Regions from separate parts of the Homo sapiens genome. Here region 1 is linked to region 2. The links come from fine-mapping of genetic effects on gene expression. A gene starts in region 2. The other region holds a variant in brackets. All regions are shown on one strand. Distances are between the middles of the regions.

Evidence for each region. PIP is the estimated chance that this variant, and not a neighbour inherited with it, causes the effect.
Region 1: its variant is the best candidate, but not a certain one, in a credible set for the expression of CEP131 in esophagus mucosa (GTEx, PIP 0.67).

What each region holds. Positions count from the first base shown.
Region 1 is chr17:81,191,482-81,196,947 of GRCh38, forward strand. CEP131 (centrosomal protein 131) reads right to left here. Exons shown (of 26, transcript NM_014984.4): 14 at 5,449-5,466; 15 at 5,220-5,345; 16 at 4,354-4,470; 17 at 3,389-3,491; 18 at 2,445-2,646; 19 at 1,255-1,362; 20 at 995-1,112; 21 at 837-911. Among named protein-coding and RNA genes, the nearest start is that of AATK, 28 kb to the left of the region's middle. RefSeq lists an enhancer at 1,438-2,155. The variant A/G (reference allele first, on the strand shown) is at 3,162.
Region 2 is chr17:81,220,792-81,226,008 of GRCh38, forward strand. It overlaps CEP131 (centrosomal protein 131), which reads right to left and starts at 2,174. Exons shown (of 26, transcript NM_014984.4): 1 at 1,978-2,174. RefSeq lists enhancers at 535-1,205, 1,206-1,875, 1,876-2,545 and silencers at 1,907-2,236, 2,397-2,766.

The DNA.
Region 1 (5,466 bases), 29 kb before region 2:
GCGCTACGTCCTGTTGTCAGGACCCAGTGTGGGCATAGGCGTACCAGAGATCGTCATGATGCACAGCCCACGGTCCCCTCCCTCAGAGACCCACAGCCCATGACAACCTGAGGCCACCTTCTGCTACCAGATGGGATGGGAAAGTTGGACTTGCGTGTTGCTGAGGGCGGGGCCTGGGCCCCCAAGCCCAGGCATTCAGAGCCTAAGCTGGCAGCCTCCTGGAAGCCTCTGAAAACTCCCAGAGTTTCATCTGTCCAGCCCTGGGCCCCACAGGGCTACGTCGGGAGCATGCTACTGGGCCCAGAGGCATCCACTGCCAAAGCCTGCCTGGCTGCTCGGTGACATCCCAGCCCACCAGGGTGTGAAACCAGGTGACGGGCACGGTCAGCCTGGACTGTAGCCTCGCGGCGGGCATGGGTGGTGAGAATGTGTGTGGGACTGTCACCGTGGCAGAGTCCACCCCCCACAGAAGGCCCCAGAGGCTAAGGGGGGAGCCCCTGTTGTGCGTGTCCCTCTCGGTACATCTGAGTGTCAGTGGGCTGGTCGTGGGGCGCAGGGGTGTAGCAGCCCCTAGCGAGAGGGGCAACGCCTGTTCTCGGACCACAGAGGATGCGCTCCAGGCACCCTTGATCCTTCCAGAGCCCACGCAAAAGATGGGCTGAAAGCAACACACTCAGCGTCAGTTCAGACAACAACCCCAAGCAGCCAGATGTGACTCCCAGAAACGAGCCCCCAGGATGCCACAGCAGCAGCAAAACCCACCTGGGGCAGCCCCCAACTCCTGCCCACGCAGGGCAGCCCCCAACCCCTGCCCACCTGGGTGCCCAGGCCCCCACCTCCTTCCTGGTGCGGCCGGCCTCCCACGCCTGCCTCTCCAGCTCCAGCTGCTGCTTCAGGGTATTCAGCTCCATCTGGGGGGCGGACATAAGAGGCCAGTCAGTCCCACCCCGTGCAGCCCCCTGGCCAGGCCCAGCACAGCCCTCCGGTGGTAGACCTGGTGCCGGCGCTCCTGCTCCTCCCTGCCCTTCTCAAACTCAGCCCTCAGGGCTCGGGTCAGTGCAGAGCTGCTCTCCTCCAGCTGCTGCCTCAGCTCTTCCAGCTCCGCCCGCTGCCTGCGGCCAGGGAGGAGTCAGCAGGTGAGGGGTCATCGAGTAAGGAGTCAGGGATGGGAGAGGTCAGCGGGTGAGGGGGCGGGGGGGAGGGGTCAGCCAGCGAGGGGTCCCTGGGAGAGGGCGTGGTGCCCCCGGGCGGCACCTGGCTGCCTGCTGGCCCAGCCGCTCCCTCTCCTCAGCCACCTCACTGTACAGCCGCTGCCGTTGCTGCTGCAGCGCCCACTGCTCCTGCTCCAGGTGCTGCTGGAACCTGCGGGACGGTCAGGACTGGCTCTCGGGGGCCGGGACGGGCGGTCCCAGGACCCACCCACCGCAGGGGCACGGGCCGACCACAGGCCTGACTCACAGCTGGAGAGCAGCCCTCCGGGGCCCTGCCCCTCCCCCTCGGCAGTCAAGGCCCCTCAAAGCCACCGCCCGGGGGCAGGCAAGGCCACGAGGAACTTGCCCATCAGCCAAGCGCAGCAATTCCCTGAGCTCCAGGCCCTCGTGGCACTTTGGGAAGTGGCTGTGGAGCCGCGTCCAGGCCCCCTTTTCCCTCAGCCCGTGTGCCGGCCTCACCCTGTTCAGCATTGCCCCACGGGCATGGAGGGCGGGAGGCAGGTGCCTCGTGGGGCCTTATCCACCTCCCCTGCCTCCGGCCTGAGGGTGCCAGGTGCCTGGCTCCGTGACCTGAGCAAGCTCGCGCCAGGGCCTCGTCCTGACCCCACCTTCGAGGAGAGACTGGGGGACCAGCCAAGCTGCATCTGGGGAGGACCAGCCACGACAGGCAACAGGGTGGATAGGAGAGGGTGGCTTCCAGGCTGTCCTGGTGGCGCAGACAGTGCAGGAGGGGCTGCCACTGCCCCCTGTGGCCCGCAGATCCTGACCACCACTGGGCACGTCCCCAGCCCCCAGGGCTCAGGACGCAAGAGCAGCAGTCACCCCTCAGACCCCAGGCCAAGGGAGTGAATGAGAGAGACCGTCCCTGGGCCCCAAGGTCAGAGCTGGAGGGGCCTCGAGGCCGCCTATCCACGGGTTGCTGCTCTGGGGCCAGTTGTGAAAGAGTGGATGTCTGGTGGGGGTTCCCAGCCCTGACCCTGGGAAAACACCCGTGCACCCATGCAGAACCTGCAGACCTCGGCGGGCATGAACTGCAGACACAAGCCCGAGGACACTGGCCCGGCTGAGGCTGGGCCCCCAAGGGCCACTCCAGGGCCAAGGGCCCTGCGTCCTCCCTGCATGCTGCACTAAGACCCTCGCCCACCTCTACATGGGAACTCCACTCCAGCCTTCGAGGATTCCGACTCCCCGCCCTGAGGGTCCTGGCCCCACCGGCCTGGGGCCACCACCCACCGCTGCCGAGCACGTTCGCGCTCCTGCTGGCCCAGCGCCTCCTTCTCCCGCTCCAGCTGCTCCCGCAGCTCCTCGGCCTGGCGCAGGCAGCGCTGCGAGGCCCGCTCATCCGACTGCAGCAGCTCCGCCTCGTGCAGGCTCTTGAGCCTCCGCACTTCCTGCTTGTGCCTTGCAATCAGCTTCTGGATCTCGGGCTCCAGACCTGGGGGCGGGGCACCAGCTAGGGCCACGTCCAGCTAGGGTGGGCCCGGGAAGTCCAACCCTGGCACAAGACCAGCCTGTCTCAGGCCCAGAGGGGACCCCGCCCACCCAGGGCCTCCTTGGATCCAACCCGAAGCACAGCTGAGTCTTGACGCCCACGAGGTGGGGAAGAGACCCCCACAGGGCCACGGCGCCTCTCCCAGCCTGTGGGGCTCAGGGCTCCTGACACTCCTGGTGCTACCACTGACGGCTCCCAGGCACCCTGGCAGGTGTCCAGAGCGAGAGGACCAGGCCTCGGGGAGCCCTGCACATCACCCAAGGGTCCGAGGCCCCTTCAGACCACAACACCCACCAGCCTCCTGCCCCATCCGCCTGCCTGCCCCTGCCTCCTCCTGTGGCTCACTCTGCTTCCCGTGGCAGGGCCCACGTGCCACAGTCGTCCACAAACTCCCAATCTCCCCTAGCCCAACCCTGAGGAAGTGAGGCACTGAGCCCCCTCGTTTCAGGCAACTGCCT[A/G]GATGCTGGGGGCTGGGCCAGGCTCCTGTGTGGAGCCCACCTGCCCCCCGGGTCACGGCAGAAGCCGCAGCGGAGGCCGTGACGGGGGTGGTTGGGGCATGAGTGTTCACCTCTGCCCAGGAAGGTCTCGGACTACATGAATGCCTGAAGTTATGGCTCTCTCAAAAGAAGCCCTGGCCGCAGCACCCACCCCACACCTGGCCGGCTCATGGGAGGGGAGGGCCCACCTCGGACAGTGACCTCCTTGATCTTCTTGGTTTTCTCACTGATCCACTTCTCCCGGCGGGCTTTCTCGGTGGCGCTCATTAATTCTTTGAGTTTTTTAATCTCCTACGAGCAGAACAGGGCAGGAGGAAACGACACGAAGGACACCCCCGTCCCTTTGCCACCCTGTGGGCACAGTCAGGGCCGGGCTTCCAGGTCCACCAGCACAAGGCCGGCACTCATGGTTGGGTGTGCTGCCCCGAGACAGAGCCACTGCTGCCCTCCCCAGCGCCCGGGGCCAGGCTGGAGGCCCAGGCCCACCCTGCCACACACCTTGGTGGCCTGAGACATGGGAGGGCAGCCATCAGCCTGCAGAGGCCTTGCCCCAGAGAGGGGTGCTGCTGCCTGTCGGGACGGCCCCAGAGCCTGCATTCTTCCATGGGACTGGCAGTCCTCAACCCCGGCTGTCAGCCACAGTCACGTGCAGGGATTTTAAAATGCCAGTGCCAAGCCCCACTCCAGAACCTGGGCTCGGGACCATCACTGCCCAAGCTGGTGGGAAGCATAGCCAGGGAGGCTGAGGCCCCCAGGGAGCTCACACAGCGGGAAGGGGCGGGGAGTCAATGCTCCACCGACACCTGGTCAGTAGAGAGAGCAGGTCCCATGGCCCAAGGACCTGGCAGTGGGGCAGACCAGGCAGAGGCTCCTGGGTCCACGGCTACCGTGCTGTGGCCGGGCAGGGACTGTGCGTCCACATCTGTGACAGCAGGCCCACGGCCCCGCCCCAGAGCCTGGCAGCTAGAGAGGCAGGAGTGGACCAGCTCGGTGCCACGGTGCTCCCCCAGACAGCCCCACCCACCGCTGTGGCCCTGACACACCGAGACAGGAATGAGGACTCCAAGTCCGGTCCTGTTCTGGGGGCTGTGCCAGCTGAGCCTGGCCTGTGAGCCGGGCTTGGGACGCCGTGCAGTAGGGAGCAAAGCCTCACCAGCTCGTGCTGCGCCTGTGCCTGGGCCACACGCTCGGTGCATCTCTGGTCCTCCTGCTTCAGCTCGGCCACCACAGCCTCGCACTTTTCACTCAGGACCTTCTTGTCCTCAATCAGCTGTGTTGGGGACCGGAGGTGAGGTGCTACACCAAGGCCCCAGCCCAGCAGGACCCCTGATGGAGGAGACCCTCCCAGCCTCCGAGGGAGGCTAACAGCAGCCCTCCCCTGGGGCTGCCCCTCCTAGGTTTGTGGATGGACCCTGGGGCCAGTGGGGGGGCACGTGTGCAAACACGGGCCCAGGCCTGCATCCGCCGTCCTGTCCTCAGCTGGGGGACCCGGCGAATGTCAGAGAAGCCCCAGCCCACCCCCTGCAGTGATGTCAGGGTCTTCCTGGGATGAGGGTAGCTCTGCCGAGGCCATCACCCAGCCCTGGAGGAGGCTCACTGTCTGCCAAAGGGTGTCAGGACCACACCAGCCTCACTGCCGGCCCCAGGCCAGACCCCAGGTCAGGACACACCTGTGACAACTATCAAGCAGCCCTGGAGGCCCCTATTCTCACACACCCCAGACCAACTCTAGGTCTCTTCTCTTCAGAACAGGAGCCAACCGGGGCTGCGACTGAGCTGAGGGGCCGGCAGGACACCCCACTACACTCACACGGGGCGGCTCTGGATAAAGACAGGAGTGCCCTCTCCAGGGCATGCATGGCTGGGAATGGCATGGGAAAGGCTTGGAATGCGTCCAGCGGACACCCGTGTGACACCCAACAGAGGAAGAAGCTCCCTGGCAGTGGGAAGCCCCTGGCTCTGGAAGTCTCCATGAGCCACGCGCTGGGTCCGGGCCTCTGCGCTCCCCGGGCCGCTCACCTGGTCAATGAAGGCCAAGTGCCGCTGGATGGTGGCCTCGTAGTGCTCCCTCTGCCGCTGCAGCTGCCGGCTCAGCGCCTTCTCTGTCTCCTTGACCCGCCGGGCCGTGAGGTCTCGCTGCTGCGCCTGCAGGGTGTGGGCAGAGGAGGGAAGCGCTAGGACCGGTGGGCCTGGCCTCAGCAGGTAGGAGGCTAGCAGGGCCCGGGATTAGCAGTGCCAGCAGCGTTACCAGCGCTCTCTGCAGCAG
Region 2 (5,217 bases):
TACCCGGCCCCTAAGTAAAAATACACATTTTAAAAAGGGGTTGCGTGTTGGCCGGGCACAGTGGCTCACTCCTGTAATCCCAGCACTTTGGGAGACCAAGGCAGGCAGATTGCCTGAGCTCAGGAGTTCAAGACCAGCCTAAGCAACACAGTGAAACCCCACCTCTACTAAAAACTTCAAAAAATTAGCCGGGCGTGGTGGCGAGCGCCTGTAATCCCAACTACTTGGGAGGCTGAAGCAGGGGAATTACTTGAACCTGGTAGGCGGAGTTTACAGTGAGCCAAGATCGTGACACTGCACTCCAGCCTGGGCAACATAGCGAGACTCCATCTCAAAAAAAAAAAAAAAAAAAAAACGCGGGAGTGGTTTTGTGAGGTCCAGACAAGATGCTGGTCTCAAGGCCTCAAGGCTGCACCGGGCAAACACTCCCTGGGTAATGTGTTATTCCAGCAGGGGACGGGGGTTCTGACGATCGATCGAGGGGATTAGCTTGGGGATGCTGGCTTCCTTACTTTGGAACTTCTCAGAGCAAACCCTGCCGGCCCCCAGCCCGTCCCCACATGGCACCTCTTTCTGAACGAGTCTTTCTGATCTTTCTGAACGGGTCTCAGCTCGTGCATGTGCCCCTGCCAAAAACCCTGCAACAGCTTCCTAGGCACAGAGAATAAAGTCTACACATCCAACTCCTGCAAGATCTGGCCCTGTACTCTCTGTGACCTCGCCAGCTCCCCTGCTGTGCCCCTTTGTTGTGGCTTTAGCCAACACAGCCTCCCTGGTTCTCCTCAAACTCAGCCAGCTTGGCCCCGGCCAGTCCCCTGCCTCTAGGTCTCAGGACACTCCCTCCCTGCACTCAGAGGCCTTCCTTGAGCACCCATCACTCTTCACTCCCCATCCGGCTCGGACTCCCTTCCTGTGGCCGCACACAGTTGGTTTATGAATTGTGTGGCTCCTGAGCAACCCCAGCACCTGCAGGGAAAGGCACTCAGCTGAACCCGTAGATGAACGGGAGAAGCTGGCGCCAGGGACCAACCTCGAGAATTACCTCCCTGCCACGGTGGCCTCCAGTAGGCCAGCAGGCACCCAGCCTATCGCCCAAGGTCACCCTGGGCTTCCTTCAGCCCGGCACCCCACAGCAGGTCCCCCAAGGTCCCTTCCACGGAGCGATGGATACCCCTACTCCCTAGAGGCTGACCCTGCCACTGACCAGGTCCCAGTCCTCAGTTATGCACTTCCGGCTGTGCGGAAGAAACTTAACACCCTCCTCCTGCAGGGCACTGTCCACCCCTGGCTGGACCCATGCAAGCCCTTGGAGCCCAGGACTCTGCTCTCCCAGCCACACTTGCAAGCGGCTCTGGGATGGCGAACGGGGCCTCTCCATGGAAACCTCCAAGCCAGAAGAAGGGAGGCCTGGGAGGCCACTACATCTTGGATAAAACTGTGTCCCTCCCAGGACCTGAAGGGGCGGGGACTGATGACCAGCGCCAGGACCTGGTTCCCAGGGTGGGCTGACCCTGACCCTGACCCTGACCCTGGACAGAGAGGCCAGAGCCCACGCGCAGAGCAGAGCCCTCCACTTGTCCTCAGGGCAGCTCCCATCTCCCCATTTTCCCCAGGGCTTAAGGCAGCCGGGCCAGAGATGCCGGGACTGGACTCCATGTTGTCCTGGGGACCGGAGGGGAGTGGAGGGAGGTGGAGAGGGTGGAGGGGATGGAGGTGGGGACCCACACCCTCAGGCACGAGCCTGTCTTCACCTGCGCGGGCCCCGGACCTCCCTCACCTGTGCGCACCCTGGATCCCCCTCACTTCCCCCGGATCCCGCCTTCAATTGCGCGGGCACCAGATCCCCCCACTCACCTGTGCGTGCCCCGGATCCCCATCACTTCATCACTGGACCAGGGCCTCCCACCTGCGCGGGCTCCGGACCCCTCCAACCTCCGTGCGCCCTGCAACCCCCTCCCTTGCCCGGGCCCCCCTCACCTGCGCGGGCCGGGGGCGCAGCCGCGAAGCCTGCCTGGCGCGCGGGGCCTGCAGATTCGGCCGGCGGGGAGGGGATGCGGAACCAGTCGCGCCCAAACCTCGGGTCGGCGACCTGGCGCCCCGCCACCCCCAACACTGCCCCGAGGCCCGGTGACAATGAAGCGGCCGGACGGCCGGGGTGAGCAGCGGCGGCAGCTAGCAACCAGCCTGGCACCACCTCCCCAGCCCGTCACGCCGGCCCGCCTTTCCTGCGCGCGCCGACTCCGGATTGGCCCTTCACGCTCCCGCTCAGGCCGTCCCGGGAGCTCATTGGGCCGCTCGGCTGTCCTTCGGGAAGTTCAAGCGTGGGAGGAGCGGCGGATGGCTGAGGGACGCGACTACAGAGAGCGGCCGATTGGACGCGGCTGGAAAGGGGCGGGTCATATAGGGGGCGGGGGACCGAGGGCGGCGGGAGGAGCTGGCCGGGCAGGGGCGGGGCCCCAGCGGTTGTGGGCGGGGCGTGAGGTGGGGGTGTGATGGGCGAGTAGGGCGAGGCAGATGTGGGCGGGGCAAGGCAGGTGTGGGCGGGGCACGCAGGGCCTGGGGAGGAGACACCAGGGAGGGCGCGAGGAGCACGCGGCCTCGGCTCGGCTCCCCGACACCCCCAGGCCGCCGCACTCCCGCGGCCCGGGGCTCCCCCAGTGTCCTAGGCCGCTCTGTCCCCACCCACGTGCGCGACTCCCCTCGTTACTCAGTACGACTGCGAGGGCGTGTGGGCGCCTTGCTAACCTCCCTGACCTCCTTCCCTTCGCGCTGCTTTGTTGTTTTTTTTCCTTCTCCAAAGTTTTAACGCTGCGCCCCGTGCGTAGCCGCTCTGTGACTCCCCCTCTCTCCGGGAGCCCTGGGGATTCCGCCCAGGTCCTCTCCAGGGAAGCCATCCTTCCCCTAAAAGTCACAGCACACTGGTCTCCCCTGCCCCCGCTTTTTAAAAAGTCCAGTGCTCTGTAAAATAAAAAGTTTGGTTTCAGTAAAATCCACATTTTTTGGTGTGCAGTGGAGTTGTGTAACTTTAGTTACAGAACATTCTCCCTCCGGATCCCGTACCTGCTGACTGCTGGTGGCGGCTGCTCAGTTCTCTCTGTTCTCCATCCCTAGAGGCAGCCTTTTCCAGAATGTCACACAAAAGGGATGTCGCGCAGCGCGCCTGTGGGTCTGGCTTCTACCACTTCGCATTTTGAGATTCATGCTGGTTCCTCTTTATTGCTGAGTGGTATCCTGTAACCGGTGTGAACCACCGGTTCAGATGGTTTTATTTATTGATGGTTTTATTCATCAAATGAAGGACGCAGAGATTGTTCCTGGTGCTTGGCAATTATGAATGACGCTGCCATAAACATTCACTCATCGGCTTCTGTGTGGACACAACTTTTCATTTCTCTTGTGTAAATACCCAGGAGTGGGGTTGCTGGATCAAATGATTGTTTATAAGAAACTGCCGGCCGGGCGCAGTGGGTCCCACCTGTAATTCCAGAACTTTGGGACACTGAGGTGGGCGGATCACCTGAGGTCAGGAGTTCGAGATCACCCTGGCCAACATGGCAAAACCCCGTCTCTAGTAAAAATACAAAAAAATTACCCGTGCCTGGTGGCGTCTGCCTATAATCCCAGCTACTCAGGAGGCTGAGTCAGGAGAATCGCTTGACCCCAGGAGGCAGAGATTGCGGTGAGCGGAGATCACCACTGCACTCCAGCCTGAGCGACAGAGCAAGACTCCATCTCAAAAAAAAGAAAAAGAAAAAAAAAAGGAAACCGCCAAGCTATTTTCTTTTTCTTTTTTTTCCTTTTTTTTCCGAGATGGAGTCTCCCTCTGTCGCCCAGGCTGGAGTGCAATGGCATGATCTTGGCTCACTGCAAACTCCACTTCCTGGGCTCAAGCAATTCTCCTGCCTCAGCCTCCCGAGTAGCTGGTATTACAGGCACATGTCACCATGCCAGGCTAATTTTTGTATTTTTAGTAGAGACAGGGTTTTGTCATATTGGCCAGGCTGGTCTTGAACTGCTGACTTCAGGTGATCCACCCACCTCGGTCTCCCAAAGTGCTGGGATTACAGGCGTGGGCCACCACATCGGCCTACTAAGCTATTTTCCAAAGAAGTTGTACAGCTCTACGCTCCCACCAGTGCCACAGGTGTTGCAGTTGCTCCCCATCCTCCTCAGCTCTTGGTATTGTCAGGGATTGGTTTTATTTGTTTACTTATTTATTTATTTATTTATTATTATTTTTTTGAAACAGAGTCTCGCATTTTTGCCCAGGCTGGAGCATAGTGGCGCGATCTCAGCTCACTGCAAGCTCCGCCTCCCGGGTTCACGCCATTCTTCTGCCTCAGCCTCCCGAGTAGCTGGGACTACAGGTGCCCGCCACCACGCCTGGCTAATTTTTTTGTATTTTCAGTAGAGACGGGGTTTCACCGTGTTAGCCAGGATGGTCTCGATCTCCTGACCTCGTGATCCGCCCGCCTTGGCCTCCCAAAGTGCTGGGATTACAGGCGTGAGCCACCGCGCCCGGCCTACCACATTGTCTTGATTAGTGTTTTTGTTGTTGTTGTTGTTGCAGAGATGGGGTCTCACATGTTGCCCAGGCTAGTCTCAAATTCCTAGGCTCAAGCAATTCTCCCACCTTCACCTCCCAAAGTGCTGGGATTACAGGCATGAGCCACTGCACCTGGCCTAGAGTCAATCCTGAAATCAGGTTTTGAGTCCTTTGTTCTTCTTTCTCCAAATTACCTAGGCTATCCAAATTCTTTTGACTTTTCCTATAAATTTGAGTTTCAGCTTGTCACTATCTTAAAAAATATCCAGCTGTGATTTTGATGGGGATTACATTAAATCTGTAGACCTGTAACCTGGAAGAATTGACACCAGAATTTATGAACATGGTATATCTCTCCACTTATTTAGATCTTCATTGATTTCTTTCATCAGTACTTTGAAGTTTTCAGCATACACATCCTACATATATCTTTCTAATTTATACCTAATCATTTCATTTTTGGAGTGCCATTACAGATGGTAGTTTTTTATGGTTTAATTTCCAATTGTTTATTGCTATTACAAAAGTGTAACTGATGTTAGTATATTTACCCTGGAGCCTGTGTCTTTGCTAAACTCACTTCTTAGTCTTAGGAAGTTTTTGGTAGATTTCACGGGATTTTCTACAATCCTGTTTTCTGTGAATAGTATGTTTTATTTCTTCCTTTCTAA